5 separate regions of the Homo sapiens genome follow, and regions 1, 2, 4 and 5 are each linked to region 3. The links come from fine-mapping of genetic effects on gene expression. A gene starts in region 3. Each other region holds a variant in brackets. All regions are shown on one strand. Distances are from middle to middle.

Region 1 (6,074 bases), 770 kb after region 3:
CTCAAAAATTATAATCATCACCAATTTAAACAATTTGGTACTACTAGAGGAAACGTTACTTTTGCATGAATACATAATAGGTCCACAACATATGAACTGAATATATTAGTCTCAATAACGGAGCTACTGCTCTGGTACAGCACCAACTAAATAATTTCTCTTTAAGTCTGTACATTAAAAGTGTGATATTACATAAAAGGCAAGAATGGATGTTACTAAGGCAATAAATATTAGTGTCACACACCAAATACAAAACCTATGTCTGAATTTTCTTATAGACAGAAAAGGAAACAATTTCAGTATATAATTCCTAAATTTAACTGAGTTTTTTTCATTCTTTTCAATCTCTATAGGACTTAAGTTATCCATGCATTTTTCACTGTGCATAACTGAACAGTGATTAAGATTTTGAACACAGGAGCCGGGCTCTAACCCCAGCTGCCCCACATAACTATATAAATTTGGACTAGTTTCTTATCAGGGCCTCATTTCCTCATATGTAAAATTGGGATAATAATAGTACATACCTCAAAAGAATATTATATGGATTACATAAATTATAACATGTTAAATATTTGGCAAAGCGCCCAGCACTTTGTGTTAGCTTTTAATATTGTTATTATTGTTATGCAAATAAAAAGTGAAACTATATTAAGTGGCAATATTTACACAGCTTTAAAAGACTGTAAATTTATATAACCAATAAAGACATAATTGCTTAAAAAACTTTAGCTTATAATCTGAGTAGGAACCAAATATCATTTAAAATGAAATTAGATGAGTTACGTATGTTTGTACTGATTATAATTTAACCTTTAAAATGAACATGAAGGCTGGGTGCAGTGGCTCACGACTGTAATGCCAGCACTTTGGGAGGCCAAGGTGGGTGGATCACTTGAGGTCAGGAATTTGAGACCAGCCTGGCCAACAAGGTAAAACCCCATTTCTACAAAAAATATAAAAATTAGCCAAGTATGGTGTCATACACCTGTATTCCCAGCTACTCAGGAGGCTGAGGCAGGAGAATTGCTTGAACCCGGAGACAGAGGTTGCAGTGAGCCAAGATCAGGCCACTGCATTCCAGCCTGGGTGAGAAAGCGAGACCTTGTCTCAAAAAAACAAAACAAAATATGAAATAAAACTAAAACATTCAAAAGTGATCTTTTAATAAAAATAATTGGAGATTTTTAATGTAAGCTAAGAAAAACATATTCTCTTAAACAATTCAAAATAAATAGGTAATTGGAGGAGTACTCACTATTAATCAAAGTTCATTCAAGTTCATTATCAGCTCAGTGAGGTGGCTCACACCTGTAATCCCAGGACTTTGGGAAGCCGAGGTGGGCGGATCACTTTAGGCCAGGAGTTTGAGACCTGCCTGGCCAACATGGTGAAACCCCAACTCTACTAAAAAAAAAAAAAAAAAAATTAGCTGGGCATGACACACCCAATACAAAATACTCTCCTACTCGGGGAGCTGGGACAGGAGAATTGCTTGAACCTGCAAGGTGGAGTTTGCAGTGAGCTGAGATCGCGCCACTGCACTACAGCCTGGGCCACAGAGCAAGATTCTGTCTCAAAAAAAAGAAAAAGATTATCATATTTATCCCTTTTTATTTTGAAACAATCTCAAACTTACAGAAAAGTTGCAAGTACAGTTCAAATAATTTTTAAATGAGTTATTGGAGAGTAAGTTGTCAACGTACTGCCTTATCACCCCAGAATACTTTTTTTGTGTATTTCCTTCAAAGATATTCTCCTACAGAACTATAAAAATCATGAAAATCAGAAATCAATACCATAACATTATCATATAATGCACAGGCCCCATTCAACTGTTGCCAATTGCCCCAAAAATGTCCCCATAAGGATCCAGTCCAAAGTCATACAATGCATTTAGTTTTTATGTCTCCTTATTCTCCTTCAATCTGGAACCACCTGTAGTCTTAACTTTCTGACTTCTGATACTTACGAAGACTTCAGGCTAGCTATTTTGAAGAATGTCCCTCAGTAGTGCCTGTTATTTCATCATGATTAGATTCAGGTTATCTATCTTTGGCAGTAATATCATAGAAGTGGAGCCATGTTCTTATTGTTTCCTATCAAATGGCACACAATTTTGATTTCTCCCATCACTGGTGAGGTTAACTTTGCTCATTTGATCACAGTAGTGTTTGCCTGGATTCCTCACTTTAAAGTTACCTTTTTCCCCTTATAATTAAAGTATCTCATGGGAACCATATTGACATTATGCCAATATACTCATCAAATTTTCAACTTACTCTTTCTAAAAATATTTTATTTTGGAGACAGGGTTTCATTCTGTCGCCCAAGCTGCAGTGCAGTGGAGCAATCCCAGCTCACTGCAGCCTTAACCTTCTGGGCCCAAGCGATCCTCCCACCTCAGCCTCCTAAAGTAGCTGAGACCACAGGCATGCACCACCATGCCCGGCTAATTTTTTAAAATTTTTGTAGAGACGGTGTTTTGCCATGTTGCCCAGGCTGGTCTCAAACTCCTGGGCTCATGTGATCTTCCCTCCTCAGCCTCCCGAAGTGCTGGGATTATAGGCATGAACCATGGCACCTGGCCTTTAAAAAAAAAAAACCATTGACACAATGAACTCATGGGTTTCTATTTCATTCAATGGGTTGGTTATATCCATTATTATCATTATTTTGACACTCAATTCATCCCATATTTGGCTAATGGGAATCTCTTCAAAGCTGGCTTTTGTATCCTTTTTGATGTGTTGCTATAATTCTTTAAGAACCTCCCTGCTTTCTGGCACAAGAACATGTTCAAGGCTCATTTGATACTTTCTCTGCCTCACCCCTAAATTCAGCCATTTCTCCAAGGAGGCTTTGTTCCTTTTATCGGAGAAAAGTACTTGGAAACCAAGATATGGGCATTAGGTGTGCTTATTGCTATTGGGATATTACTGCTCTAAGGCCCTCTCAGTTAACTGAATGCCATATATATATATAATATATATTATATATATATTCCAATATATACTAAAAACCATGAGTTCACGTGGGTATCTCCAATTACAATCCAAAACCCAGAGTTCATTCACCTTTTCTCCCTGGTCTTTATCTTTTCTTATCTTATTTTATTTTTCAGACGGAGTCTTGCTTGTTGCCCAGGCTGGAGTGCTATGGCACAATCTTGGCTCACTGCCACCCCCACCTCCTGGGTTCAAGCGATTCTCCTGCCTCAGTCTCCTGAGTAGCTGAGACTACAGGTGCATGCCACCACACCGAGCTAATTTTTCTATTTTTTAGTAGAGACGGGGTTTCGTCATGTTGGCCAGGCTGGTCTTGAACTCATGACCTCAGGTGATCCACC[C/T]GCCTTGGCCTCCCAAAGTGTTGGGATTACAGGCATGAGCCACCGCGCCCGGCCTGGTCTACATTTTAGCTACTTTTTCTGATAGTGAGAAATTTGGCTCCTGTTATCCTTAATTGATTTACTTAGTTGATCAATATCTATAAATAACCAATCTTTCATTGCCACCACAGCTCCTCCCTGCCAATAAGGACATTCTTCTCACTGTGCTCAAGCTCAAAAAACCTGCACCTACTGCTGCCACCCCCTGCTATGCCCACTTCACCCCATCTGAACACTAACACCCTATGGCTCTACACTCCCCTTCACCCCTATACAAAAGTCATCCTCAACCCTTTCAGACTCTGACATCTCAAATTATATCCCCCTTCATGTGGATACCCTCCTCACCCCACTTTGGCTCTAGCACCCCATGCTAGGCCACTGCTCCAGTTGGGCTCCAATATACCCTTTCAGGCCACTGCTACTATCCCTTCTTCCCATCTCACTTCCTTTTCTCTTGCTTCTCCCAGGTTTGGACTAAAGTTTTCAGGAAGGGAAGTCAGAAGAAAAGGGAATGATTAAGGATTCAGGAACTAGAGAGAGGAGGGAAGAGAAGAGCAGTATCATTGTATGACACCTCATAATTAGCTATTTTGCTATACAGTGATTATGTTTCTAAAACGTATGCAGAAAATAAGGAATAAACACTAAAGAAAATAATAGGAAAGAAGAAAAGAATATGACACTGAAAAAGAAAAAAATTTCTTAAATGTACTGAATGCTTGTTCTTATTTATTTTACACTTCCAATCATTAAGAGTTGTTATAGACTCTAACAAGGCTATGAACTATGGCCAACCCCCTTTTCCACATTGGAACTGAAAAACCTACACCATATACACAGGGAATTTAAGGTACTTAAGTTTGCAGGTTATACAGAGTGGTAACAGCAATAGAGCAATTTCTACAATTCCTACAACCCAAACTGTGAAATCAATAATGGTGAAAGTTACAGAGGGGTATGCAAAATATACCTTTAATAGCAAAATATTTCCCAGGTCTGAATCTCATGAAATGAAAGATGGGCATAAAAGGGGATTCTCTCTGCTGCTTTATAAGACAATTCGGGGAGATTGAGCAATCAGTTGCTACTTGATACCAAGCAGTAACCAGCTCTATGACACATCCTTATGTTGCCTTACCCTCCTTCCCTGTCTCATTTCATTTTCTCTCACTCTTGCTTCCCTGGGATCATATTCTTTAATAACACAATAGCACATTAAAAAGCATTTCCCAGTCTAATGCAAGCAGAAAAATCCCTTAATACAATGCATTCTATGGCACAAACAACACTGAGTTTTGTGACTTGATAAGGACCAAGGATTCCAGATTGGAAAGGAAGATAAAAGTTTATCTCTATTTGAGTAATAAATTCATTCCACAAGGGTGTTGGCCAGGCTGGTCTCAAACTCCTGATCTCAGGTGATCTGCCTGCCTTGGCCTCACAAAGTGCTGGGATTACAGGCGTGAACCACTACACCCGGCCTTATGTGATTTTATCTAAGGGACTTAAGCATCCTCAGGTCCTAGGGGGTTGTGAAACCAAAACCCCACGGATAGCAAGGGACAACTGTATCTTCAAATTAGACAAATGGCGCCGGGCACAGTGGCTCACACCTGTAATCCCAGCACTTTCGGAGGCTGAGGCAAGCGGATCACCTGAGGTCAGCAGTTGGAGACCAGCCTGGCCAACAGGCTGAAACCCTGTCTTTGCAGAAATGAAGGGATAGCTGGGTGTGGTGGCGCATGCCTGTGGTACCACCTACTCGACCGACTGAGGCTGGAGAGTCGCTTGAACCTGGGAGGTGGAGGATGCAGTGGGCCAGGATGGCGCCACCACACTCCACCCTGGGTGATAGAGTGAGACTCCGTCTCAGAAACAAAACAAAACAAAAATTAGACAAATGCTACATTAATGTTTGGGTGGTCAGATTCTACTTTGAAGTCTGAAGTTTGCAGATATGCCTATAGATTTTTGGAGTTTACCACTTTCCTATTCTGTATCATTAATGTAATATCTTAAATTACTATATATTTGACCATTTTTCTGTATTTAGTAAGAAATTTGCATTTCTGATTTGATATAACAAAAGTTTTAATGTAATTTATATTAGATTTTGCATTTTTTATCACTGTTATACTTTAACGTAAATGACTGATTTAATTGTATTAGTATTGTGAACAATCATGTGGAATGTTTTGAGACAGAGTACTCTATTGGTGAATATAATTTTATGGCTTTTTTCACTTAGTAAGAACCTTTCTATCAGTGTGGAAAACTAAGAAAACTGCTCTCTGCTGTATAATCTGGCATTCATTGTAGATTAAAGCTTATTTTTCTGTGAATAAAACATTCAATAAGATACTATTTAAAATTAAAATAAATAAATAAATGAATGAATTCCACAAGGTTAGGGGTACAAGATCAACATACAAAAATCAGTTATATTTCTATCTATATACACTAGCAACAAACAATTAAAAAATGAAATAAAGGAAACAATTCCATTTATGATAGCATGAAAAAGAAAAAAATATCTTAGGAGTAAATCCAACCAAGGAAAATAAGTCATTCTACCAAAAAGACACATACGTGTACCTGTATATTCATTACAGCACTATTCAAATTAGCAAAAACATAGAATCAGCTCAGGTGCCCACCAACAGTGGGTTGAATAAAGAAAATG
Region 2 (6,074 bases), 230 kb after region 3:
CCCTGAAGAACCCTGGGGGGGCAATAAGTGCCGGAGAATGAGGAACGAGCTACACAATTCTACTCGGGAGCTCAGCTTTGAATTTGCAAACTGCTGGGACCTCACTATACAAACCTGCAGGGCGCTGAGAATGTTTTTCTTCCAGTTTTTAATCAGTGCCCAGTAGTGTGAATACAGCCCCTCTGCTGAGACTTGACAATACAGTGAGATCTGGAGTTCCCACGGCAACAGGAACTAACTCATCCCAGGGCTCTTTGAGTTATCAGTCGGCCCACATTTCACAAAGGTGATCAGCGTGGGCTCGACAGCTCTTAGAGGCCTTCTCTGAAAGCAGGCCGTGTATGCACTACCTAGCAGCCCCCCTTTTGGATTCAAACCTCTGGAGCATTCCTGTTTGCTGAATACAATTGAATGATCCTAGCTTTTTGTGCTTACTGGGGTGTGGTATCTGGGGGGTGGCTGTAAGGGGTTTAGGGTCTCTGGGTCAGCTGGTAAGTGAGAGAGGCCATGGAGTTCAAGATCCCCAGCTCTTATCACTTGGTTTCTGCTGCCAGGCTGAGCCCTAGTCTGGAAAAGGGAGAAATTCATGATGGGCTGGCGCCATGTTAAGCACCATTCTCACAACGCCTCTGAGAAGAGTATTACACACCTTTTGTGAATAAGAAAACAGGCTCTGAGAGGTGAAAGTGGTTTGTTTAAAAGTACACAGCTGGGATGTAACTGAGCCATGATTCAATTGAAGTTTGTTTCCCACCAAAGCCCGTGTTTCTCCAACCATGCCATGCTACCTCCTTGGCAAATGCTTTGATTCTTCCTACTCGTACGTAGCCTCTGGATAGAGAACAGAACTTTCCCTACCACACTTTGGTAAGCTTAATTCAGGATTTAGAAGATGAATGGGAAGGTGAAAACCAAACCTGCCTTCCTTCTCTGAGAATTTGCAGATGAAGCCCAGTCCATTGGGGTGCTTTCCAGGGACAACAAGGGATCATCTGCTGGCCTGTGTGTCCTGAGCAAGGAGCGCATCCAGTATTGTGCCTTTCTTGACCATTCCATGAGATTCGTTTCCTTAGTCATTGAACATTGTGGTATCATCAGCACCTTCTTCCCCAGGGAGGCATTCCCTTGGTGTAGGCATGGTAGGGAGGAAGCTTTGTGTTGGCACACTGCTCCTTACTACACTTCTAGAACTCTCAGGGTCCTTTGCTCAATGCCTTTCTGATGTTTCACGTCCATTCTCCATCCCAGCCCTGGCTCTAGAGTGTCAAGGCTACCTAAGTCTGAGATTCCAAGAGTTAGGGCAGCCAAAATGAAGAGTTCTCGATCTGTGTCCACAAAGTCAAGTGAGGCACTAGGACACAGTCATGTCACCTATAGTGAAGACACAGGAAAGTGAAGAGATGGACTGGGCTACAGACCAAGTTTCCTCAAACTCCATGCCCAGTTCTGGCAGGATGGTAGCTTTCCTTTTGGTTTGGGTCTTTCTGGGGTTGCTCTGTTTTGGAGTTGGAGTAGCTCCCTGCCTCAGGCTCACAACAGGCAGGAGCTGGAGCCCTAGCACACTCACTGGGACCAGTCTTTGTTGATGCTGCTCAGTTAGGAGGTCCCCTTGAAACAGGAGGGCATTCTAGGTTGTGAAGTCAGTTCTGGTTTCCTATCTTGCCTTTGCCACTTTTTAGCTACTTGGACACGTACCTTGATCTCTCTAAGCTTTGGGTTTCTTCATCTGTTAAAATGGGATAATGCAATCTAGCTTCAGCAAGTGGTAGTAAATGAGCTACCTTGGGTAAGGTACTTGGCTGTGAGCCTGACACACGGTAGAAGCTTAAATTGTAACATAGCAGCTCTCACCTGTGTTCCCCTCCTAGATTGCATTCATGAGCTTCCCGTTAGGGTCACTGTCCATGAGAAAGTTCTTCCTGGCCCTGCTTTGGGGAACCTTTCCCTCCTTTGCTGGCTCTCCCCACTCCCCATCAGTCTGGTCCCAGAGTAGCCATCTCTGATCCTGCTGTGGCATTCTGGAAGGGACTAGAGGGAAGAGAGTTTCTTGTTTTGACCCCTTCCTGCTTCAGTGACAGGAGGGCTACAGAGAGGGATTAGTGAGCTAATTAGAAATGATTGCATTGCTCAGCATTAATTAGCAGTGTTGTGGGCTTGCAGTGTGCACTTTGGAACTGAGCCCCCTGTGGGACAACATGGCAGGCAGCCCTCTGCCTCCAGGGCCTGCCAGCCCCTCTGTACTGATTAGAAATGATGGAACAGGTTCGGGTGGGCACAATAAGGGCTGCCTTCTCAGGGTTCCCTGAGCCTTCTGACCTGGCTGCCAAAGGTCTGACCCAGACCGTCTTACCTTTATGACTGGGCCTCAGTCTCCTCTTCTGTGAAATGGGATTAGTGGACCTCAGAGAAATTCTTCCTGATAAGATTCTAGGTGGGATGCTAGGAGCTGTACCTCAGGGCTCTTGGCCCAGGAACCAAAGAGGATTTAGCTGATGAGTGAACAGCAGGCCAAGTCAGGCCATCGGAGGGGTTAGGTTCTAGTCAAGAGATGCTCTTTAGAGTTGTATTTCCTGACACCAAAAGAGTTCATGGTCTTGGCCTTCTGGAGAGATACCTAGCAACATGGAGTGTCTTTGCTCACTGGATTTTTATTAAACACTGCAAATAGAAAGGTATGGGTAGACCTTGCACCAGCTGCAGCCAAAGAGTGGACTTACTCACTGGCTTAGTTAGCACCAGTCTCCTCCCCAGGTGCTCTTGGCAAAGCCCAGTCCCCAAAGGAGCAGGAGGTATTTCAAGATGAGGGCCAGATCAGGCACTGAATAAAAAGGCCAATGGCTGGCAAGAGGTCAGGATGTGTCAGCTCCACTGGGACCCTGGGGGCTGCAGTGACCGTCTGCTTGTTCTGTGCTTTGTTTTCGGTTTCCCCGTGCAGCTCGGATTGGGAAAATGAAACGGAGGAAGCAAGATGAAGGGCAGGTATGTCCCCTGTGCAACCGCCCCCTGGCAGGATC[G/A]GAGCAGGAGATGAGTAGGCATGTGGAGCATTGCCTTTCTAAGGTAGAGGGGCCATCACCACCCACCTTCCTTCCCCGCTCCCTTCCCCCGACACTAGCTGCTGACTGCCCCTGAATCTGTGGGCTCTTGGGGTCTCCATGTGGTCTCAGCAGCTTCTTCCCTTCTGACCACTGCTCTCTCCTTTTGCTTTCACTCTCACTCATTCCCTCCTTGGGCTCCAGCGGAAAACTATTGGGAAGAGGCCCAGGTCTTTGACCTCTAAATTGGTTTGCTTCAAAGGAGCCCTAGAGCTGAGGGCCCACTTGGCACACCACAGCTGGGGCTAGAGCTGTGCCTTCGTTGCAGACTGTGGGGAGCAGGTGGGGATGGCCTGGGCCCAGCATGATCCTGCTCTGCTCTTCACAGAGGGAAGGCTCCTGCATGGCTGAGGATGATGCTGTGGACATCGAGCATGAGAACAACAACCGCTTTGAGGAGTATGAGTGGTGTGGACAGAAGCGGATACGGGCCACCACTCTCCTGGAAGGTGGCTTCCGAGGTACAAGCAGCTGACACGTAGACATTGGCACTCTGGTGCCAGGCCTCTGCTGGGTATCCATCTGCTGGAAGCCAAGAGGCCGAGGCTGGTGGCTGGTCATCCATCCGTTCCACCACGTGGGGACTGCTGCTGGTGGGGCTCCTTTGTGACCGTGCTGCCTGCCTGTGATGTGCATATTAAAATGGATGTATTTGGGTGGGGAAATGGAATTGTGAGGCTGCAAGCTAGGAGTGACGAAGGGGGGCTCTCAGCTTCGGGTGATGCATTGAAGGTGACAGCCAAGCCGCGTTAGCACCTGCATAAAATATTAAAGGGACGGTTATGCATTTATCACTCCATCCCTCTTAAGGCTGATAAATGAGAATCCAGCAACCTGCTGTACACCTCCAGCACTGGGGGCCCTGAGGGCTTCCAGGCAAACACATTGGATTTTCCTCCTCCTCCTCTTCAGCCCTATGTCAGGGAAATCAGTTACAGAGGAGAGTGAGTTATGGCAAAATTTGACCTCCCATGAGCTTCATTGGTGAATCTAATTTTAGCTCTGATCCCATCCCTTCTCCCTGGGCGCCCTCTGCCCTGAAGCAAGAGGGGCCTGGGCCCAGCTGCTCCCTCCTTCCCTTGGGCTCTCCCCAGTTGCTACAAAGGAGTGTGCAGGGCCCTGCCCATCTCCAGTGCCCTCCCAGCTCCTTGGAAGAGCAAGGCTTGACACCCCCCACCAGGTCAGACAGCAGAATTGGTTGGGTGCCCAGGGTTAGTGACTTGTTAAACTCCCCAGCCTTGGGCAGGGGAAAAGGGGAGCTGTCTGCCTCTTGGCCTCCAGCTCTTCTCTCTTTCTGTGCACAAGCACAGCTGGTACTGCAGCTTGTGGTCATTAAGTGAGCCAATCTGCTTCCCGTCTGCCTCTCTCTCTGGGCAACACCTTTGGGAATACTGCTGTGTATGGTCCCTGGGGAATCTCACAGCAGCTGGGAAGAAGTTCTCTGCCTTCGTGGGGCCGTGCTACCTGGGCAGATGCTGAGGAGTGGTCTCTGCAGGGCCGTCCAGTGCAGACTGGTTCCACGAAGGGGCTAAGAGCCCAGATGAGACATTATGCCTCTGGGCGTCTCTCACATTACCCAGGTGTTTGGGGGCAAGCCAAAACATAAATCAGGAAGGTTAGTCAGACCAAACAGTCTCCCTGAGCCGGAGCTGGAGAGTGTTAGTTTGCCATTTCACTCATCCCGTACTGGAGCCTTCGAGTATCTGAGGCCCTAGAAGAGTGAGCAGCAGGGCTGACGACTGTCCCATGAGTTGGACACATGGGTGTCCGATGGCAGCCACACAGGGTCAGTTTCAACGTGCTGCTCTGGTTAGCTCTGTTGGCAGCTGCAACTGCTCACATCCTCCATTGCTGTGGCACCTTCTTAGGTTCCTTGGCACAGACCTGGACCTGATGGCTTCTGGGCACCAGACAGGGCTTATGGAGGATAAAGCTGCAAAGGGCCTGCTGATTTGACAAGAGTATTTCCCCTGTGCCGGGATGCACTTGCACAGCAGTGTGAGGGGCTCTTAGGCCCCGGGCGGGTATCCGTTTTCCCTGAGTGTTTACACTGTGAGGTTGTTCCTTTCAAGAATTCCTGAGGGGAGTTCAAAGGGGGCTTTTCTTTGAGCGATTTGGAGAGCGAGAATGAGAGTGAGACTTGAAGAGGGAACAGGGGCCGGAGGTGCCTTTATCTGCAGAGAATTGCTCCAGCTTTCCTGATAGAAGCTGCTGCCGCCTCTTAAACAGCTTAGTGCAGTCAAAAGACAGGCAGACTTGAAAGGCTGTTTTACAGCGAGATCAGCGGGGGCCACGAGGCAGAGAGCGGGGCGCAGTGGAGCGGAGGAGGCTGAGGCTCCTCAGTGGGGGGGCTATCAAAGGGAGGCCCTGGCTGATCCCTACTGCCTCTGCCCCCAAAACCCTGTCTGCAAAAGCTGGCCATCTGTCAGCCTACCCTCCCTGGCCAGGACTGATAGGCCCTAACTCTTGGGGGGTTGGGTGTGGCCTCGCCAGGCGGGCTGGTGTCAGTGCAGCGCATTGATCGCCCGCCGGGCGGGCCGGGCTGCAAGCCGGGCAGCGCGTGCTTAATGTGATTGAAAGGCAGTTAAAATGGCGGTGACCTTTTCAGGAGGAATTAGATTGCCTGCCAAGACCGGTTAGAGGGAGTGATAACGCCAGCTGAAGAAGCTGCCCAGCAGACTTCAGAGAGAAGGAGGCAGAGGCAGGATGAGCAGGCGAGTGGCGAGGCCCATTTAAACTGCGCTGTGCGTGCTGACAGAACAGAGATTGCTGTCGTTGTTAGATATGAAAGAAGTGAAGAATTGCAGATAAGTTCCTGTATCCGATCACCCCCATCCCTCCTCCCAGAGTAGGGCCTCTTCTTCATCCTCAGCAAAGCTTCCCACCAGGCCCCTGGAGGTTGGTCTGATGGATCAGATCGGTTACCTCAAATGTAATCTGCTGTGGGAAGCAGTGAACGGGCAAGAGTTTCGGTGGAGACAC
Region 3 (6,074 bases):
GATCTACGGGAACTCTCTAAGTTAGTCTGAGGGAGCCTTTTACTACTGATAAACATTAAAGTACTGACAACATCTTTTGCTATAAATAATAAAATCTTATTTAGGATTTATATAGAGTCTTCCTTCTGCCTTCATCCACCATACTAAAATGGCTAAATCCTGTTGATTCTACCTTTTAGATCTCACTGTAATGTGTCCCCTCCTCTCCACTCACTCTGCCCCAGTACCTTGGTTCAGGCCCTACTTCATCTCAACTGAATTACTTGAGATAGACTTTTTGATTGGCCTCCCTGCCTCTTGTCTAACCTCCACCTTGTCCACCCAGGAACTAGTGCTTGTTTTAAAACAGAAATCCTACCCTGTCACACCCCTAAAACCCTCTAGGGGTTTCTCATCATCTGTAGGATAACATCCACTTTCCTTAGCTTAGTATACAAAGCCTTTTGTGATTTGGCCCACTTCTCCTGCCTATCTCTTGCTGCTCAATGTTTCATATTTCAATTTTGAGGGAAATCAGTGGCTTATAATTCCTTTAACACACCAGGCAAGAGAGTTCTCGATAAATGCTTGTTAAATGAATGAATGAAATACCTTATGTAGCTAGGGTGACCATTCAATCTGCTTGGCCCAGGATGGCCCTTGTTGACATTTGTCATCCCAGTGTAATTATTAAAAGTGTCCCTTTTTTATCATCAAACTTGTCTCAGTTAGATCAATAAATTCTAAGGTCATCCTTATTACAGTGGTTATCAAATTGATTTCTAACTCTTTCTTTGTCTCCTCTACTAGATGGTGAGCTCTTTGAGGACAGGAGTTCATTTTTATATCCTCGTTTATTCATTCAACTAAGAGACTGATGCTGTAAGGTGCTTAGGGTATGATGTAGAATGCAACAAACATGGTTCTTGACTTCATGAAGTTTACAATCCAGCAGGAAATAATAATTTAGTGGAAAGAATAGAGCCTAACATAATAAATGCTGGTGTATGAATGAATGATTAAACATGGATTAGAAGTTCCTCAACAGGCCAGGCGTGGTGGCTCACCCCTGTAATCCCAGCACTTTGGGAGACCGAGACAAGCGGATCACTTGGGGTCAGGAGTTTGAGACCAGCCTGGCCAACATGGTGAAACCGTATTTCTACTAAAAATTATTTGGGCATGGAGGGGCATGCCTGTAATCCCAGCTACTTGGGAGGCTGAGGTAGGAGAATCGCTTGAACTCGGGGCGGAGGTTGCAGTAAGCCAAGATCACACCACTGCACTCCAGCCTGGGCGAGAGAGTGAGATTCCATGTCAAAAAAAATAAATAAATAAAAATAAAGTTCCTCAACAAATAATCCTGATATCACGAATTATAGAAATAGTTGTAAATGTAGAACTCTAAGTGATCAAATTAACAATTTATTTAGAGTTGCCAATTAAAATTTTAAAATACCAACAGCACACATATACATAAACATACTTAATATTTAGATGCTACCTTAATGTTAAACATAAGTAAAAAGGACAATGAAATAATAGCAAGAATGAGATTTTGAGTCTCATTCTTTTTAGACAATTTATAATCCTATGTGGTTCTCTGTAAAGTGGATTATCAGTGTGTACTCCATTTCTCCCCACCCTCCCTTTTTTTTTTCCAGATGAGAAATCTGAGGTTTTAGACACTTAACTACAAAACAAAAGAATGACTTTTTTTTTTTTTTTTTTTTTTGTCACCCAGGCTGGAGTGCAATGGTGTGATCTCGGCTCACTGCAACTTCCGCCTCCCGGGTTCAAGCGATTCTCCTGCCTTGGCCTCCTGAGTAGCTGGGATTACAGGCGCATGCCACCACGCCCGGCTACTTTTTGTATTTTTAGTAGAGACAGGGTTTCACCATGTTTGTCAGGCTGGTCTTGAACTCCTGACCTCTTGTTCCGCCCGCCTCGGCCTCCCAAAGTGTTGGCATTGCAGGCGTGAGCCACCGCGCCCGGCCAGGAATGACTTCTTAAACCAGGATTTGATTTTGGTTGAACTTTGCTTTCAGAACTAGAACTACCTGCTATCCAAGACTTGTTAACCACGTTTTCATGGGCAAATTACAAAACCCTTTCAACCCCAGTTTCCTCTTCTATAAACTAGTGGTAATATTATTATCTCCAGAATTAATCTTAGGAGTAAATGAAATTATGTAAAGGCATTTAGTCTCATAACCGGGCTCCTAGAAAGCACTCAGGAATGTTAGTTCTCTATCCATTTCCCCTGTTTATCTTTGTGTTTGATGAATTATAGGATGATATGAAATGATCTGAAATGAACTGTAATATAAACATCAATAAAACACCAATAAAAAATTTTATTCTCACATCTGGATGCTATACTAGGCCTTCACCTCCTCCAAAAGTTACAGTTTTATTAATATTCATTTATTATTTATTATTATAGTCAAAGACCCAGAGAAGCATTCCAGGAACAAAGCAGCAGGTAAGATTTTTCTGGGAAAAGACAGAGATTTTGAGGGACCCAGGATTTGGGGGTCATTTAAGCAGCAGTGGATGTCAGTCTTCAAGCTTTGCCCATTTACTCTTGGTCCCTTTTGGTTCAGGAAAGGAAGAACAACAAGCACGAAACCATTCACTGAGACCTTTGCGGGTGGGGGAGGAGGGATGTAAACAAAAGCCAACGCTCTCTTTAGTTCACAATGGCTCGCGACCCCAAGACTTCCAAGCTCTTTGGTGAGGGCCAGCAGGTCTGTTCTCCAGGAGTGCCCTGGGTCTGGACTTCATTTCCCAGAGTCCCTTAGTGCCCTAATGTATTCAGTGCTCAGAGTGCCTGTATGTGTGTGAGTGTGAGAGAATGTGTGCGTGCGTGTGTGTGTGCGCGCGTGTGTGTGTCTCCGAGTCCCTGGGAGAGTGGAGGCTCATTCACTGATTAGATCCAGCGCTGAGAGGCAGCACTGCTCCTTCTCTCACGCCAACTGAGTCTCTTGATCTGTACATGCAATCCCAGGCAGCTCGCGAACACAAACCCGGGGCCAGCCGCCTACTGCTGCTGCTGCTGCTGCCGCTGCCGCCGCCGCCGCCGCCGCTGCCTCCGCCGGCTCTGCGAACCCGGGACTTTTCATGCACCACACTCTCCGCCTGCTTCCCTCCGTGTCCTGAAAAGTGCGACCGTTCTCCCAAGGAATTTCCACGGCAAGTATGGAGATCAGAAAGGGGTGTGGACGTGTGTGCGTACCCAAGAGGGGTGGGTGCGAGGGCGGCCGGCTTGTTCAGGAACCTGGCTAACTTTCCGGGTCCGTTTCCTAGGGATTCGGGCGGTTCCCTCTGGACGGGGGCAGGGACTGGGACTCGGACTGGCGCGTCTTGGATCATCGCGACGGAGCCTCTCGGCATCGGCGCCCTGCGCGCTCCGTGCGCTGCCTCGCTCAAACTTTCCGTCTTGAGTTTTCCTTAATGTGTTTTATTTGGGGAGGGGGGGAGGTGCAAGGGGGAGGGACCAGACGCGGGAATTGGACAAGTTGGGAGGGTGAGGGCACTGCAAGGGAAGGGAGCAGGACTTCTTTTCTCCGTCTCTTAATAAGCCCCATTCCCACTTTGTTCGGGTCGATATCGAGAATGCCTTCTCGCCGGGCTCTCTGGTGCACCCCCCGGTGATTTCCGGGCTCCCCTATGTACCCCGCGTTGATTTCCGGCGAGGCCAGGGCTGGGTGGTACTCAGTGGGGAGCCCGAGGCGGCGGGCGGATGGAGAAGGGGCGAGCCGAATGAGAAACTACCCCGACAGCCTCCACCCCACACACAGCCGGCTCCGCGGGATACCCGGGGAGTGGCTGTTTAGCCCTGGACCCCGGGTGCTCGGCTGACTTTTTCCTAGCGGGGGCGGGTGTGAAGGGTGTGGAGGGAGGGAGGTGGGGTAGGATGGATGGATCCTCTGCGGGCAGGAAGGAGGCAGGTGCTAGCATAGAGGCGGACCGTTCTAAACGCCACCGGTAAACTCCCCACTCCTCTGGGCTGGACCGGCCTGGCCGTAGAGTAGCCCGACACGTGGGATCTCCCGGGATTTTCGGGGTCGGGACCCCCTCTCCCAGCGGTTCTACTGAGCAAGGCGGGAGGACGATCGTGGAGACGAGGGCTACTTGACTACTCTACTTGTAGTTTTATTTTTATCTTAGACCTGCCTTAAACTGAGTAACAATTTCTCTTCTGACTTAAGAACAAAACTTTTCAGTGAGCACGCCGGTCGCTGCGGTCCTGCGGCCACTGCCGCCGCGCTTGTCAGCCCGGGCCGAGCGACCTTCTCTGCCCGGAACCCAGCCCCGCCACCGCACTCCGGAGCCTCCGGCCTCCCCCACCCCACCCCCGCCCCCCAACCCGGGGCTTTTCAGGGCTCGGCCTGGGCGTTTCGCCTTTGTGCTTTGTAAGAGAAAGCCTTTTCTTCCAGGGCACAACAAACTTGGGCGGAGAGCTTCCGTGTGGCCCCCCGGGCGAGGCCGCCCACGGTGGTGAGGCCATCCGAGGGGATGCCCGGTTCATCCCCCAGTCCAGGAGCCTCTCCGAGAGCTCGCGGCCCAGGTCGACCCCAGCTGGCGAGGGCGCGCAGGAGTCCCGAAGTAGCGGGGACTAGGGCAGCCAGGAGGCAGGGGGAAAGCTCTCGCTTCCCGTTAAGCACACCCTGCATTCTCGGGTCGTGGATGCAGCTCCAGCGGAGAGCCCGTGTTCCGGCCCTGAGCCAGGCGCGCGTCGCACTGGGTGGGTGCATGGGGCCCGGGCCATAGGTGTGGGGGCACAGCCCTACCTGGCCGGCCCGGGTCGTCTGGGGTCTGCGCCGGCCCACTGGCCCGGGAGCCGCCGAGGGGGAGAGCACCGCACTCGCTGCCCACGACGCCCAGCAGCCACATCTTGCCTCTCGCCTCCGCTCCGGACTCGGCTTGAGGGGCAAAGGGGAGAGAAAGGAAAAATAAAGAAAAAAAAGGGCGGCAGTGAGGAAGCAGCGAGGGGACTGGGGGGAGCAGAGTGGGCAGGGGGGCTTTGCCTTGCCTGGCCTCCTCTTTCCGTCTCGCGGGCTCTTCCTGCAAAGGGGAATGAGCAGAGGGGGGAAAGGCAGAAAGAGCGTCGAGGAAGAGCGGTGCTGGCGTCTTCCGTGCCGATCCCTCCTGGCCCGCAGAGACCCGGCAAAAGTGGCGTGAGTTCGCTTGCTGCGCTTCGAGGCAAGGCTGGGGAAGGCCGAGGACGGGGCGGCGCCGCGTCGCGCCGCTGGTGGCCGACAGGGCCGGGGCCGGGCGCGGAGCGAGCGGGGACACACACCTGTTCTGCGAGCCGCGCGGTGTGCGGCGGCCGGACGGCCGCGGTGCGGGCCGCAGAACCCTCCCTCCCGCACTGCGCATCCGCAGTCCAGGAGCTGGAAGGGCCCGGCAGCCCCGCGCCGGTCCGTATTTGCAGGAGAAGCGGGAGTGGAGGAGTCCGCGGCTGCCCGCTGAAGCGGTGGTGCGCGCGGCGGCGGGACCCGGGTGACCCCCGGGGCGGGGCTGCTCGGGGGCTGGAGGTCCTTGGACTTTGGTCGAAGGCTGGCAGCTCTGAGCCCCTGCCCCGCGGGCCCCGCGCGGCTGCGGACCAGGGGCCCTTGCACGTGTCGGTTCTTCCTGGACTGGCGCTTTGGTTGCCCAAAGTTGGGCGCAGATTGTTTCGTGCGGAGGTTGTTGGGACCCAGAGTATTCTATATACAAAGGCAACCGAGAGCCGGAGGGAGAGGTCGGGCCAAAGAGTAGTGGGCTCGGCTCCGCGTTGGGCCCAAGTTTATGTAGGTTTCGCCTTCACCTCTTCTTCCCCCGTTTTCCCTAAAAGAGTTGATTTTTTTTCCCAGTCGAGACTCTTCCGAGCTGAATAATGCACCCGCTCGCTGAGCCAGTATCCCGCGACCCCGCACTCTCGGACTGGCCCGGGCTGTCTCGGATTCGCACCCTTTGGCCAAGCTGGGCCTGAACCCGGGTCCAAATCTGGGACCATACCCGGCCATGCCTGAAACACAGGCGTCGGCCCTAGCCCGGGAACTGTGTTAGCCTTATGTTCCCTGAGCTCTCGCATATGGTGGTAAAAT
Region 4 (6,074 bases), 98 kb after region 3:
CTGAGGGAGGGAGTCTCTAAAGAGAGAGGAGGGAGGGAGGAGCTCCATCTGGTGTCCAGGAAAATAAGGGAGCCAGCTTTGGTCTGCGGCTCCAGGTCCACCCTGGAGTCCACAACGTGGGGCTCGGGAGCCAGGGGCGAAGCACCCTTCGGGCATAGACGGGCCCTTGGCTCTTCTGTCCTGTCAGAGAGTGGGCCTGGGGGCCCCATAGAGGCCCCTCGATTTGGCCAACTGAGCGGGACCCAGCACAAGGCCTCCAGGCTGCAGAAGGCTGTGGGGGTGGGGGTGGGGGTGGGGGTATCGGGAGACAATAGGAGAGCCCAGAGCCAGCTCTCCCTTTCCACCAGCCCGAGTGACACAGTGACACAAAGGGAGAGTCTTGTGCTTGGGGGAGGGGGTGGGGAGAGCCCTTTGTCCCGCTATTTTCTACATTGCTGGGGGTGGGGAGTGGGAAGGGTGTGGGGGGGTGACCAGCGGCTGTCAGTATGGGGAGGAGTAGAGAGTGGTGCAGAGGCCCTGGAAAGTTTTTGAATTTCAATCAGGTTGGCTTTGAAAGAGTTTGGCTTTTGTTGAAAGAAAGAGAAAGGTTAATGCTAGAGTTGAGGGGGAGGGGGTGGATTCTGCAGATAGAGTCCTGTTTGCAGGCCGGTCAGCTGTGGGACACCCAGGCTGGCAGAAAGGCTGGGGATGGGTGAGCAGAGGAGGAGCAGGCGTCCCATTTCCCTTCCCGGGCCCAGGTGGAGGAAGGCTGGGCAGAGAAGCATGGGGTTATTGGGTGTGGGCAGAACTGGTCAAGAAAGGAAAGCAATGCGGCCAAGCAGGACAATTTCTTTCTTCCTTTTGCATGCCTTACAGAGCCTTTGACTTTTTAAGCCAGGAAAGAATGAAGTTCCCTCCCTCTCTCCCCTCCGTTTCTACTCCACCCAAGCACAGCGGCGGCGGCAGAGCACTTGTCAGGGCTGACTTTGTGACAAGTGCAGGCTTGGTTGGTGCAGGAGAGGGGGGCTGGGTGGCTTGGGACCTCTTAGTGCTCAGGAATCAGCTGTTTTCTCCGCTCTTACCCTCTGCTGACCCTCCTCTGCACTCTAATTGCTCCAAAAAGAAGCATAAAAATGTGGAGCTATTATACTCTTTGAAATAGGCAGCATACTGCTTTCTCAATGTTGGGAGAAAAAGAAGGAGGAGGAAGGGAGCTACAGCCACGCAGCAGGCTAGAGATCTGCAATTCCAAGTTGGGGAGTGGGCACCTGGCATTCCCCAGCTGACTTCACACCACTGAAACACACACACACACACACACACACACACACACACACACACACACACACTTTGTAAGGCTCCTGGCTGCAGTATGATCCTTTGTCTCTCTCTCTCTCTCTCTCTCTCACACACACACACACACACACACACCATACACGCTCACACACACACATACACTTTATGAGGCTCCTGGCTAAGGCTGCCGCATGATCCAGTGTTCTGGGAGTCCCAGTGTATTCTGGGAGTCTACTGGGGCAGTCAGTTCTCTAAATGGCACCACTGTGTGTTCTCAGCTCTAGGGGTTCTACAACCATAAAGATAACTCCAGAACCAATCCCTGAATTCCAGCCTGAAAATATTTGAGAGGAGAAAGATCAGAGGAAGAGGGAAAGAGAATATAAAAATGGGATTATTCTTATTTTGACATGTAATAACCATCTGCATGGTATTAGGCCTCATCTTCCTGGAGCAAATATTCATGCACTAAATAATTTGCTCAGCATTCCTTGTGTTAGACATTGTGCCAGGCCCTAGGAGACACAGAGGAAATAAGAGCTGTCCCTGCCCTGAAGGAGCTTATTCTTAAACAGAAAAGCAAATGGAGAATAAATAATTCTAATCCAATGAGATAATATCACACATGCCACACAATACATTGTAACATACATCACATTTAACTTCATTTGACAAGCGAATACTACAGAAAAACGTGTGAATTATTATTATTATTATTATTAAATTATTATTTTAGAGACAGAGTGCTAACTCAGTCGCCCAGGCTGGTGTGCAGTGATGAGATCGTAACTCACTGCAGCCTTGACTTCCTGTGCTCAAGCGATCCTCCTGCTTCAGCCTCTCCAGTAGCTGGGACTATAGAAGCACGTTGTCATGCCTGACTAATTTTTTCTATTTTTATTTTTGGAGAGATGGGGTCTTGCTGTGTTGCCCAGGCTGCATTTTTTAAGATTTCATTGATATTTTTTACTTTAATGTTGGGTGCATTTGAAGTGTTTACCAAGGGCCAGGCGCAGTGGCTCACACCTATAATCCCAGCACTTTTGGAGGCCTAGATGGGCAGATCATTTGAGGTCAGAAGTTCGAGACCAGTCTGGCCAACATGGTGAAACCCCGTCTCTGCTGAAAATACAAAAATTAGCTGGGTATGGTGGCACATGCCTGTAATCCCAGCTATTTGGGAGGCTGAGGCAGGAGAATCACTTGAACCTGGAAGGCAGAGGTTGCAGTGAACCGAGATTGCGCTACTGCACTCCAGCCTGGGTGACAGAGCCAGATGCTGTCTCAAAAAAAAAAAAAAAAAAAAAAGAAGCGTTTACCAAGGAAAGCATTTTGGAGGTGAAAACGTGTCCCACCAAGCAAAAAGAGGATTGGACTCCAAATGCAGGCCAAGGGAAGAAAGAGGAGAATGTCCATGTGTGCATACATTAGTGTGCTGGGAAGACCTCCATGCCCACACTGCCCTCATCCAATACCACATTAAAAGTATTTTGCTGGTTTACTTGTCCATCTGATTTGCAGCCACATATAATCTCAGACACCCCCTGTTCCGCCCTCTGCCACATCACCTCCCACAGGAGAGAAACAGCTATCCCAGGCCATTCTGTTCCCCTTTCAAGGCCAGATCTGAGGTGAAGAGAAGGCATTGAGAAAGTTAACCCAAGGAAGAATTTTAGGCTAGTGTTTTCAAAGCTTGGACCAACAGCATCAGCATCACCTGGGAATTTAGAAATGCAAATCCTCAGGCGCCACCCTAGGCCTACTGAACTGAAAGCTCTGGGTGTGGGGCCCAGCCATCCGTGGGTTGTTTTTTGTTTTTTTTTTAGACAGAGTCTGCTGTTGGCCAGGCTGGGGTGCAGTGGCACAGTCT[C/T]GGCTCACTACAACCTCCACGTCTTGGGTTCAAGCGATTCTCCTGATTCAGCCTCCTGAGTAGCTGGGACTACAGGTGCGTGCCACCATGCCCAGCTAATTGTTTTTATTTTTAGTAGAGATGGGTTTCACTGTGTTAGCCAGGATGGTCTCGATCTCCTGACCTTGTGATCCACCTGCCTCAGCCTCCCAAAGTACTGGGATTACAGGCATGAGCCACCGTGCCCGGCCGCCATCCGTGTTTTAACAGGCTCTCAGATCATTCTGATGCTCCGTAAAGTTCTAGGTATGCTGATCAATGTTGCCACCCTTGGTTAGATCTTCCTGATGCACTTCAAAAATAACTTGCTCTGGTAGAAGCCAGGGGGCTAATGGGGGCCAATCCAGCCCAGCACCTAAGTCTTTTGGTTAGTTCTTGGGCTAATCTGCCCAAGGATGTGGATATGAATGGCTGGGACACGGACACTTTTAAGGACCCCGTTATCTGGGATGTCTGGGCCCTGACCCTTCTGAGCCTTGACTGGCCCCCTGTGCTCATATTCAGAGCATGGGACCTGGCAGAAGTTCGAGGGGCTGATCCAGTATGGCAGGTCCCTTTGAGAGTCCTCTTAGGGATCCGGGTTTGTGACAGCACATGACACGATTTGGCTCTCTGGAGCTTCTGGGTGGGCGGGTATAATGAAAGGATGGTTAGAATTGGAAAGAGCAGTGAGGGAGAGAGCAAAGTCCCCTCTTCCATATCTGATTTTGTAAGCAGCTTCTGATACCTCAGTGACAAGATCCCAGCACCTGTGTCTCATTGGCATCAGTATCTTTTTTGGCACAGACCGAGAATCTCTTTTTGGAAAATTCCCTTGCCAAAAGCACGTGACCATATCTGTCTTAAGAAGCTGGCACCTATCCTTTTTTTCAAATTTGTCTCTGGCCTCTCTTCCCTCTCCCAATGTTCCCTTTCACCTTGAGCTAGAAACATGTGGTATCCTCAGGGCCATTTCAGATTGATGCAACCACATCACTGGTTCTGACCTGTAAAAGTAAAGGCTAAGAATTCCTTTCAGAGGGGAAGAAAAACTATCATGAACTAGACATGAAATAGCCAAGCACTGTGCCCCTCGCTTTCCATGATGCTCCTCATTTATCGTTACAGCAACCCCATACACTATATGTTACTTCCCCCATTTTATAAGTAAGGAAGCTGGAGTTGGGAGAGTTTGTCCCTCGTGCAGCATCACACAGCTTCTAAGTGGCAGTCAGGATTTGAACCCAGATCTGCCTGACTTCAGAGCACGTGTTTGCTGCTCTTTACCACACTGTATCAGGAGAGATCCTCTAGGTCCTGGCTCCCTCCCAGGCAACCCCAAGGAAACAGGACTCTGGCCAAGTCCACGAGCTTTGTAGGTCCTGGCTGGATTCCCTCTTGGTTAGACTCTGGTCAGGCCTTCCCTGATTTCTCCTGGCCAGCTGGCCTCTCCGCCTCCTTGGCTCTACGTGGGCTCCTGAGGGAGAAGGCAGAGTGAAGCCACCAGGCCTCTGGACAGGTTGCAGTCAGCATCCGTTCCATCACGCGTTAACCCCTGCGGCTGGCCCGCAGCAGGGAAGCCCTCTTGCCTAGCTCTGCATGGACTGCTCGCTTGCCTGAGTTTGCATTATTTATTTAATGTCTTGTACCGTAAATAATGGTAACTTTATGGTTATTAGGAACGGGTTAAGGTACATGCGGGTAGCACCAGGCTGCCTTCAAAAGGAACAGTCCTGGCATAAAATGTTGCGATAATTGCTTCACTGCTGAGTGTTGGTCTTTATTTTGTGTCTGATTTGTCCCTTAAGCCAGCGTAACATTCTCCCCACGGCAGGAGAATGCAGAGAGCAAATTGAAGGGCTGAGCATGAACAATGCGACATGGCGCACTGCTGGGTTTTTCTTTTTTCCTCTTTCTTCGTTTCTCCCTTGACCTCCCTCCAATCCTCTCCGCTCCCCTCCCCCCATGCCCTGCCCCAGTCTCCGCCCTACTCTGGTTGGGAGAATCATTCTCCCCCATCCTTGACACCTCTAGAAGGTAGCCCATCATACCCCCTTATTTCCTTTTGTTGAAAATAAGGTTAATAGAGCACTCCTATTCCTTACCTCTTCTCTGGGCAGCAAACAAGACAAAACAAAAAGATAAACACATAAAAGATGCCTTCTTTTCATGGACCCGGTGCCCAAGCAATGCCCAGGCACTCTAGCCCAGAAGTTATTGTCCCTTACATTTCTTAAAAGGATGTGGAATCCTGGCCAGTGCCCAGCATCACAGTGGTCAGAGAGGGCTGGGTATGCAGAAGGACTTGGGAGGGTGGCAGGGTTGCTGGTGGCGGGTGTGGAGGGGTGAAGGGGGCAGAGTCTGCCAGCTCCTTCCTGATAGTGGGAGAGAGCGATGGTCTTCAGTGGCCAGTGGGACTCTTCCTCTTCTCTTCGGTCCATCACACCAAGGCAGGAAGGCCACTGGCACTGGCCGCCATGTGCCATACACATATTTCCCTTGTCTGCACAGGAGTGGAGTGAGGGCAGGGGTGGGGTGAGGGCCTCTCCACTCGGGGCAGCCTTTTGGTTTGCCAGAAGTGGATCCTCCTGGCCTTCATCTGTTTGCCCCTGGGGGTCATCTATCAGCCTCCAGCAATACCCTGCAGGCCGGATGGCCCAAGCCAAGTGAAACCTCTTCCCTGTAGCAGAAAGCAGGTCCAGCATCTCCCAAAACGGGCGCTCTGACTGGCTGGGCTTCTTCGATGTTCAGAGAGCTTGGCCAAAGCACGAACACTGGAGTAGGAGCCAGAAGTCCTGTGGTCTTGTCTGAGCTTCCCCACTGACTTGCCCGGTGTGGTAAATTCATAGACACAGAAGTTCCTTGGAAACGTTCTGCCTCGGTTTCATCTGTAAAATGAGGGCAAAAATCC
Region 5 (6,074 bases), 260 kb after region 3:
GTTAAATCATGGAGAAATATTCAATAATACATTAAGCAGATCATAGACATAAATGTAAGAGCTGAAACTACAAAACTGTTAGACGAGAACATATGAGTAAATCTTTGGATTAAGTAGCAGTTTCATAGACATGCCACCAAAAGTACAAGGAACAAACAAACAAAAGAGATAAATTGAGACTTCATCAAAATAAAAACTTTTTATTTCAAAGGACATAATCCAAAAAAAGTGAAAAAAAGAAAAACCCCACAGCATGGAGAAAATATTTGCAAATCATGTATCTGATAAGGGAGTAATATCCAGAATACAGAGAAAACTCCTAAAACTCAACAGCAAAAAGTAAACCCAACTCAAAAATTGGCAAAGGACCTGAATATATTAAGCAGGTCTTTCTCCAAAGAAGATTTACAAATGGCCAATAAGCACATAAAAACATGCTCAACATCATAGCCATTAGGGAAATCAAAATCAAAGCCACTATGAGGTATCTCTTTATACCCAGGATGGCTATAATTAAAAAGTCAGATAATAAACAAGTGTTGGTTGTGGATGAAACCAGGACCCTCATACACTGCTGGTGGAAATGCATAATGGTGCAGCCACTTTGGAAAACAGTATGGCAGATCCTCAAAAAAATTAAATGTAGAGTTACCACATGATCCCACAATTTCACTACTAGGGATACATCCAGGAGAGCTAAAAATATACATCCACATGAAAACTTGCCCATGAATGTTCATTGCAGTCATAATAACCAAAAGGTGGAAACATACCTCCTATCATCTGTGAACAGATAAGCAAAATGTGATACATCCATACAATTAAATACCATTCAGTCATAAAAAGGAATGAAGTACTAATACACGTGATAGCATGGATGAACCTTGAAAACATCATTCTAAGTGAAATAAGTCAGATACAAAGGGGCACATATTATATGACTTCATTTATATAAAATATCAAGAATAGGCAAATCCACAGAGAATGAAAGATTAGTGGTTGCCAAGGGCTGGGGGGAGGAGGGAATGGAGAGTGACTACTAACAGGAATGGGGTTTCTTTTTCAGATGATGAAAATGTTTTGGAATTAGATGGCAGTGATATTCTTACAATTCTGTGAATATACCAAAAGCCAGTGAATTGTACTTTTTTTTTTTGTTTTGTTTTGAGACAGGGCCTCACTCTGTCACCCAGGCTGGAATGCAGTAGTGAGATCATGGCTTACTACAGTCTCAACCTCCCAGGCTCAAGCGATCCTCCCATCACAGCCTCCTGAGTGCTAAGACTACAGGCACATGGTACCACACCTGGCTAATTTTTTATTTTTTGTAGAGACAGGGTCTCACTATGTTGCCCAGGCTGGTCTTGAACTCCTGGGCTCAAGCAATCCTCCCACCTTAGCCTCCCAAAGTACTGGGATTACAGGCATGAGCCACCGCGCCTGGCCAGAAGTACATTTTTAAAGGGTGGATTTTATGGTATGTGAATTATTTCTCAATAATGTTATTATTTTTAAAAATAATAGTAATACATTAAGTGAAAACACAAGTTATAAAGCAATATCATAACAGAATACCCATATACACACACATACTACACAAACGCACACTTTTTTTGTTGTTTTTTTTTTTTTTGACAGTCTCACTCTGTCGCCCAGGCTGGAGTGTAATGGTGCAATCTCGGCTCACTACAACCTTCGCCTTCCAGGTTCAAGCGATTCTCCTGCCTCAGCCTCCCTAGTTGCTGGGATTACAGGCGCCCACCATCATGCCCGGCTAATTTTTGTGGTTTCAGTAGAAACGGGGTTTCACCATGTTGGCCAGGCTGGTCTCGAACTCCTGACTTCAGGTGATCTGCCCACCTCGGCCTCCCAAAGTGCTGGAATTACAGGCATGAGTCACCGCGCCCAGCCATGTATTTTTTTTAATGCATAGAAAAAAATACATCAAATATTAATAGCAATTATTTATGGGATTAGAGGCAATTTCTTTTTCATGATTTTTTTCCCACTTTCTAAAATCAGTATGTATAACTTCTGCAATGAGAGTTAAAATATTATCTCAAACAACAGGGGAGGTGGTCCAGCAGAGTCAAAAGCAGTTGAGAAGTCAAAGAGGCCAGGGATGCCCAGAAGCCCCTCAGCAATGTGGAAGGATTCTTTTCAACCCTAGCACTTCTCGAGTACCCCACAAAGCAATTTAATCTCACAAGCTCCCTGTCCTCTAGAATTTCTCAACAAATAACACTGACACAGATAGTGCCAGAATTACAAATACGTATATTGTACAACAGTTCAAGCCATAAAACTCAAGCATAAATTAGATTGTGTATACCCCAGGGGCATATGGGGAAGACAAAGGAATGGGCTGATAAGGCATAAGGGTCTGCAGTACAATATGTACTTTTTTATTTGCAAGCCAGAATGAAAATAGAAACCATGTTTTCTTTTTAAAATGCAAAAAATTGGCCAGACTTGGTGGCTCACGCCTGTAATCCCAGCACTTTGGGAGGCCGAGGTGGGCGGATCATGAGGTCAGGAGGTCAAGACCATCCTGGCTAACAGGTGAAACCCCGTCTCTACTAAAAATACAAAAAATTAGCCGAGCGTGGTGGCGGGCGCCTATAGTCCCAGCTACTCCGGAGGCTGAGGCAAGAGAATGGCGTGAACCCAGAGCTGAGATCGCACCACTG[C/T]ACTCCAGCCTGGGCGACAGAACGATATTCTGTCTTAAAAATAAAATAAAATAAAAATAAAAATAAAATAACATGCAAAAAATTGAAAGAGTCTTAATTTTCTCTACTCCCCAGAAAAACTTTCTAGTGTCTCACAGTTCCTATATTTAAATCAAATTTTTCTTTTCTTCTTTGAGACAAGGTCTTTCTGTGTTGCCCAGGCTGGAGGGCAGTGGTGTAGTCATGGCTCACTGCAGCCTCGAACTCTTGGGCTCAGGTAATCCTCCTACCTCAGCCTCCCAAGTAGCTGGGACTATAGGCAAGCACCACCATGCTCAGCTAATTTTTGTATTATTTTGCAGAGGTAGGGTTTGGCCATGTTGCCCAGGCTGGTCTCAAATTCTTGGGCTCAAGCAATCCACCCCCCTCGGCCTCCCAAAGTGTTGGGATTACAGGCGTGAGCCACTGTACCCGGCCAAATTACTTTATTTTTTATTTACTTTTTAAAAGAAGAGCAGAGCAGAGTAGCATAGTATCTAAGAGTACATACTGTACAAAATCATATCTCGGTTCAAATCTCTGCCTCTGCCACTTAATAACTATGACACAGACCTTAATCAAGTTCTCTAAGCTTCAATTTCCTTATCTGTGAAATGGGGACAATGATACAAAGAATTAAATATGATAATAGCTATAGAGGGCTTATCATGGTGCCTGGCAGAAGGAAAGAGTTCAATAAATTGAAATTATTATTACTTCACAAGTAATGCATACTCACTGTAGAAAAAGTAGAAAATGAATATCTAATAAAATTGGAATCATATTGTTTGTAATCTGCTTTCTTCCGTTTGGCAATATATTGTGAACATTTTTCCCTGTCAGTTTATATATTTCTACACCATTATTTTTAGTGGCTTCAGAGAGGCTATAGAATGTTTCATAATTTATGGTGACCAAATCTCCCATTATTGGATATGATGCTGTTTCCAATTTTTTGCTGTTATAAAAATACTTTAATGGACACCCCTTTCTTTGTGCATGTCCCTAATTGTTTCCTAGAAATGGCATCGTATTCAGGCAGCCCCTCCTAATGGCAACTGAAATCTCGGCATGCACAAGCTCTGGAGTAAGGCTCTTAAGCTGAAATCTGGAATTACTTTGGGCAAGACACTTTACCTCCCCACGAGCATCTGTTCTTCATCTGTAAAACAGGATTAAGGGTTCTCCCTACTTCACAAGGTGGTTGTGAGGATTAATAAAATAATGAAAGGAGCTCCTGGTGGGCCTGGCATGTGGATAGAACATGGTTAACAGTGTTAAGTACCACAGACATTCAGAGAAAAGGAGGCCTGCAAAGAGGCCTGGATCTCAAATCCAGGGTCTAGTACAGCACCAGCACCTGGCATAGAGCAGACACTTAGAAAGCATCCTATTTTTTTTTTTTTTTTTTGAGACGGAGTTTCGCTCTCGTTACCTAGGCTGGAGTGCAATGGCACAATCTCGGCTCACTGCAACCTCCGCCTCCCAGGTTCAAGCGATTCTCCTGCCTCAGCCTCCTGAGTAGCTGAGATTATAGGCATGCGCCACCACACCCGGCTAATTTTGTATTTTTAGTAGAGATGGGGTTTCTCCATATTGGTCAGGCTAGTCTCGAACTCCTGACCTCAGGTGATCCGCCAACCTCGGCCTCCCAAAGTGCTGGGGTTACAGGTGTGACCCACCACGCCCAGCCAGAAAGGGCTCTTATCTAGAGGTGAAAGAAAAGAGATCATGATTCCAAAAATAAATACAACTCCTCTGTATTAAAAAAAAAAAAAAAGACCTTTGGGGTCCTCGTAGACAAGACAAGGATCAAATCCCAAACGACTCTCTTCACCTGGGTCTTTGAGGTCTGTCCATCATGACAGATCTTCAGGTTTTCATCTAATTCTCCACCCACAAAAGCACAGCGCGGCCTCCTGCCAGGCCCCTGTTCCCTCCAGCCACTCACTGTCCCCCTTCAGGGATTTACTTCTGCACTTTCTCCCATCCAAGTTCCAAGCAGGCCTGACACTGCTTAGCTTCTGAGATCTGCATGTTCAAGGTGGTATGGCCATGGACTTGACTTCCACACTTTCTGCTGCTCACCATGGGGGTCTGTCAGCCCTCCTGAAGCTTCAGGTCCAGCTTGGGCTGCTCTACTCTAGGAAGCCTCTCCCACCACAGGGCCCACCATGGTGGTCCAGACCCTTCAGCACTGTCTCCTGGGTGTCCGAGACAACTTCCTGAGGGTTAAAATGATGTCTATATTTCTTTGACCTCAGCCAGTGATGAGCAAAAAAGGCATGCGGTAAAACCTGGGGAGCAAAAACCCCCTCACTTCCCCTCTCTGTGATCCCCTTAAGACCTTCTGTTTACTTTAAGAGCAAAATGTTTGTCCCATGACCAGGCCCCAGACTCATTAATTCTATGAATGAATTTTTCTTTATGTTTACTGAACATGAGAGCCACACGGTGCCTTTAAGAAGGTTGCTGGCCTATGAGCAAGTCACAGAGGGGATCTAGGTGGGACTTGGCTGACCATTCTCTGGATGGGAGGAGGGGTGGCACGGCCTGGGCCTGGGATGTCAGAGCAGCTCTGGCTTGGGCCTACAGTGCTGCCAAGTGATTCCATTCAGCTCACTTGGTACATCATCCCTCCCAGGCCCTGGTGACAGTGAGTGAAGCCATCAAAAACACGACAACAGGAAAATATAGTGCTTATGGGAGCCCCAGGAGAGACCCTTCCCAAATGAAATGAAGTAAGAGAGGGTATTGAGAGACTGAGGGGATCACTGGCCTGGGAAAAAGAGAGGGAGGAGGGAAGACAGATTCTGGGTCAAACGACCGGCTTTAGCAAAGGCCTGGGCAGACGACCATCGGTGTGGGCAGCCAATAGGTACTGGCTGGTAGGATTCCCAGCAGAAGGATGTTGGGCTGCCAAGCCTGACCTACAAGGCCCAGGGCTCTGAATGACCCCAGATCTGCAGCTGCCTTCCAGCTAGCTAATGTGCCAGCATCAGCTTCTCTGTCAGCTCACAGCAGTGATGGGCTCTGTGGTTTCGATTTTTCAAATACAGGGGAAAAGTAATTTCAGGCCAGGTGCAGTGGCTCATACCTGTAATCGCAGCACTTTGGGAGGCTGCGATAGGAGGACTGCTTGAGCCCAGAAGTTTCAAACCAGTCTGGGCAATACAGTAAGACTCTGTCTCCATATAAGAAAATGAAAATTTTTTAAACTGAAAAAAAAAAGTGTTTTTAAAGGCTGGGCACAGTGGCTCACGCCTGTAATCCCAGCACTTTGGGAGGCTGAGGCGGGTGGATCACCTGAGGTCAGGAGTTCAAGACCAGCCTAACCAATATGGTGAAACCTTGTCTCTACTAAAA

Direction of the effects. Alleles are on the strand shown, and positions count from the first base shown. SD is a standard deviation of normalised expression in the study named. Not every link is listed here.
For the expression in skeletal muscle of the gene that starts at base 2,903 in region 3, allele T in region 1 goes with a lower level than allele C (large effect, 1.0 SD a copy in FUSION).

What was found. PIP is the estimated chance that this variant, and not a neighbour inherited with it, causes the effect.
Region 1: its variant is fine-mapped to the expression of RNF220 in skeletal muscle (FUSION, PIP 0.95).
Region 2: its variant is fine-mapped to the expression of RNF220 in whole blood (TOPMed, PIP above 0.99).
Region 4: its variant is fine-mapped to the expression of RNF220 in lymphoblastoid cells (GTEx, PIP 0.97).
Region 5: its variant is fine-mapped to the expression of RNF220 in monocytes (TOPMed, PIP 0.93).

Annotation. Positions count from the first base shown.
Region 1 is chr1:45,173,162-45,179,235 of GRCh38, forward strand. All of the region lies in intron 1 of ZSWIM5 (zinc finger SWIM-type containing 5), which reads right to left. Among named protein-coding and RNA genes, the nearest start is that of ZSWIM5, 30 kb to the right of the region's middle. The variant C/T (reference allele first, on the strand shown) is at 3,350.
Region 2 is chr1:44,632,610-44,638,683 of GRCh38, forward strand. RNF220 (ring finger protein 220) reads left to right here. Exons shown (of 15, transcript NM_018150.4): 7 at 2,936-2,979; 8 at 3,421-3,553. LOC107984950 (a long non-coding RNA gene) reads right to left here. Exons shown (of 2, transcript XR_001738031.2): 2 at 2,629-3,848. Among named protein-coding and RNA genes, the nearest start is that of SNORD145, 35 kb to the right of the region's middle. RefSeq lists enhancers at 1-87, 157-704. The variant G/A (reference allele first, on the strand shown) is at 3,015.
Region 3 is chr1:44,402,353-44,408,426 of GRCh38, forward strand. It overlaps RNF220 (ring finger protein 220), which reads left to right and starts at 2,903. Exons shown (of 15, transcript NM_018150.4): 1 at 2,903-3,178. RefSeq lists an enhancer at 3,796-4,318.
Region 4 is chr1:44,500,773-44,506,846 of GRCh38, forward strand. All of the region lies in intron 2 of RNF220 (ring finger protein 220), which reads left to right. Among named protein-coding and RNA genes, the nearest start is that of MIR5584, 42 kb to the right of the region's middle. RefSeq lists an enhancer at 5,727-6,074. The variant C/T (reference allele first, on the strand shown) is at 3,146.
Region 5 is chr1:44,665,697-44,671,770 of GRCh38, forward strand. The region is part of intron 1 of TMEM53 (transmembrane protein 53); the gene reads right to left. It overlaps SNORD145 (small nucleolar RNA, C/D box 145), which reads right to left and starts at 5,360; the gene lies at 5,261-5,360. The variant C/T (reference allele first, on the strand shown) is at 2,691.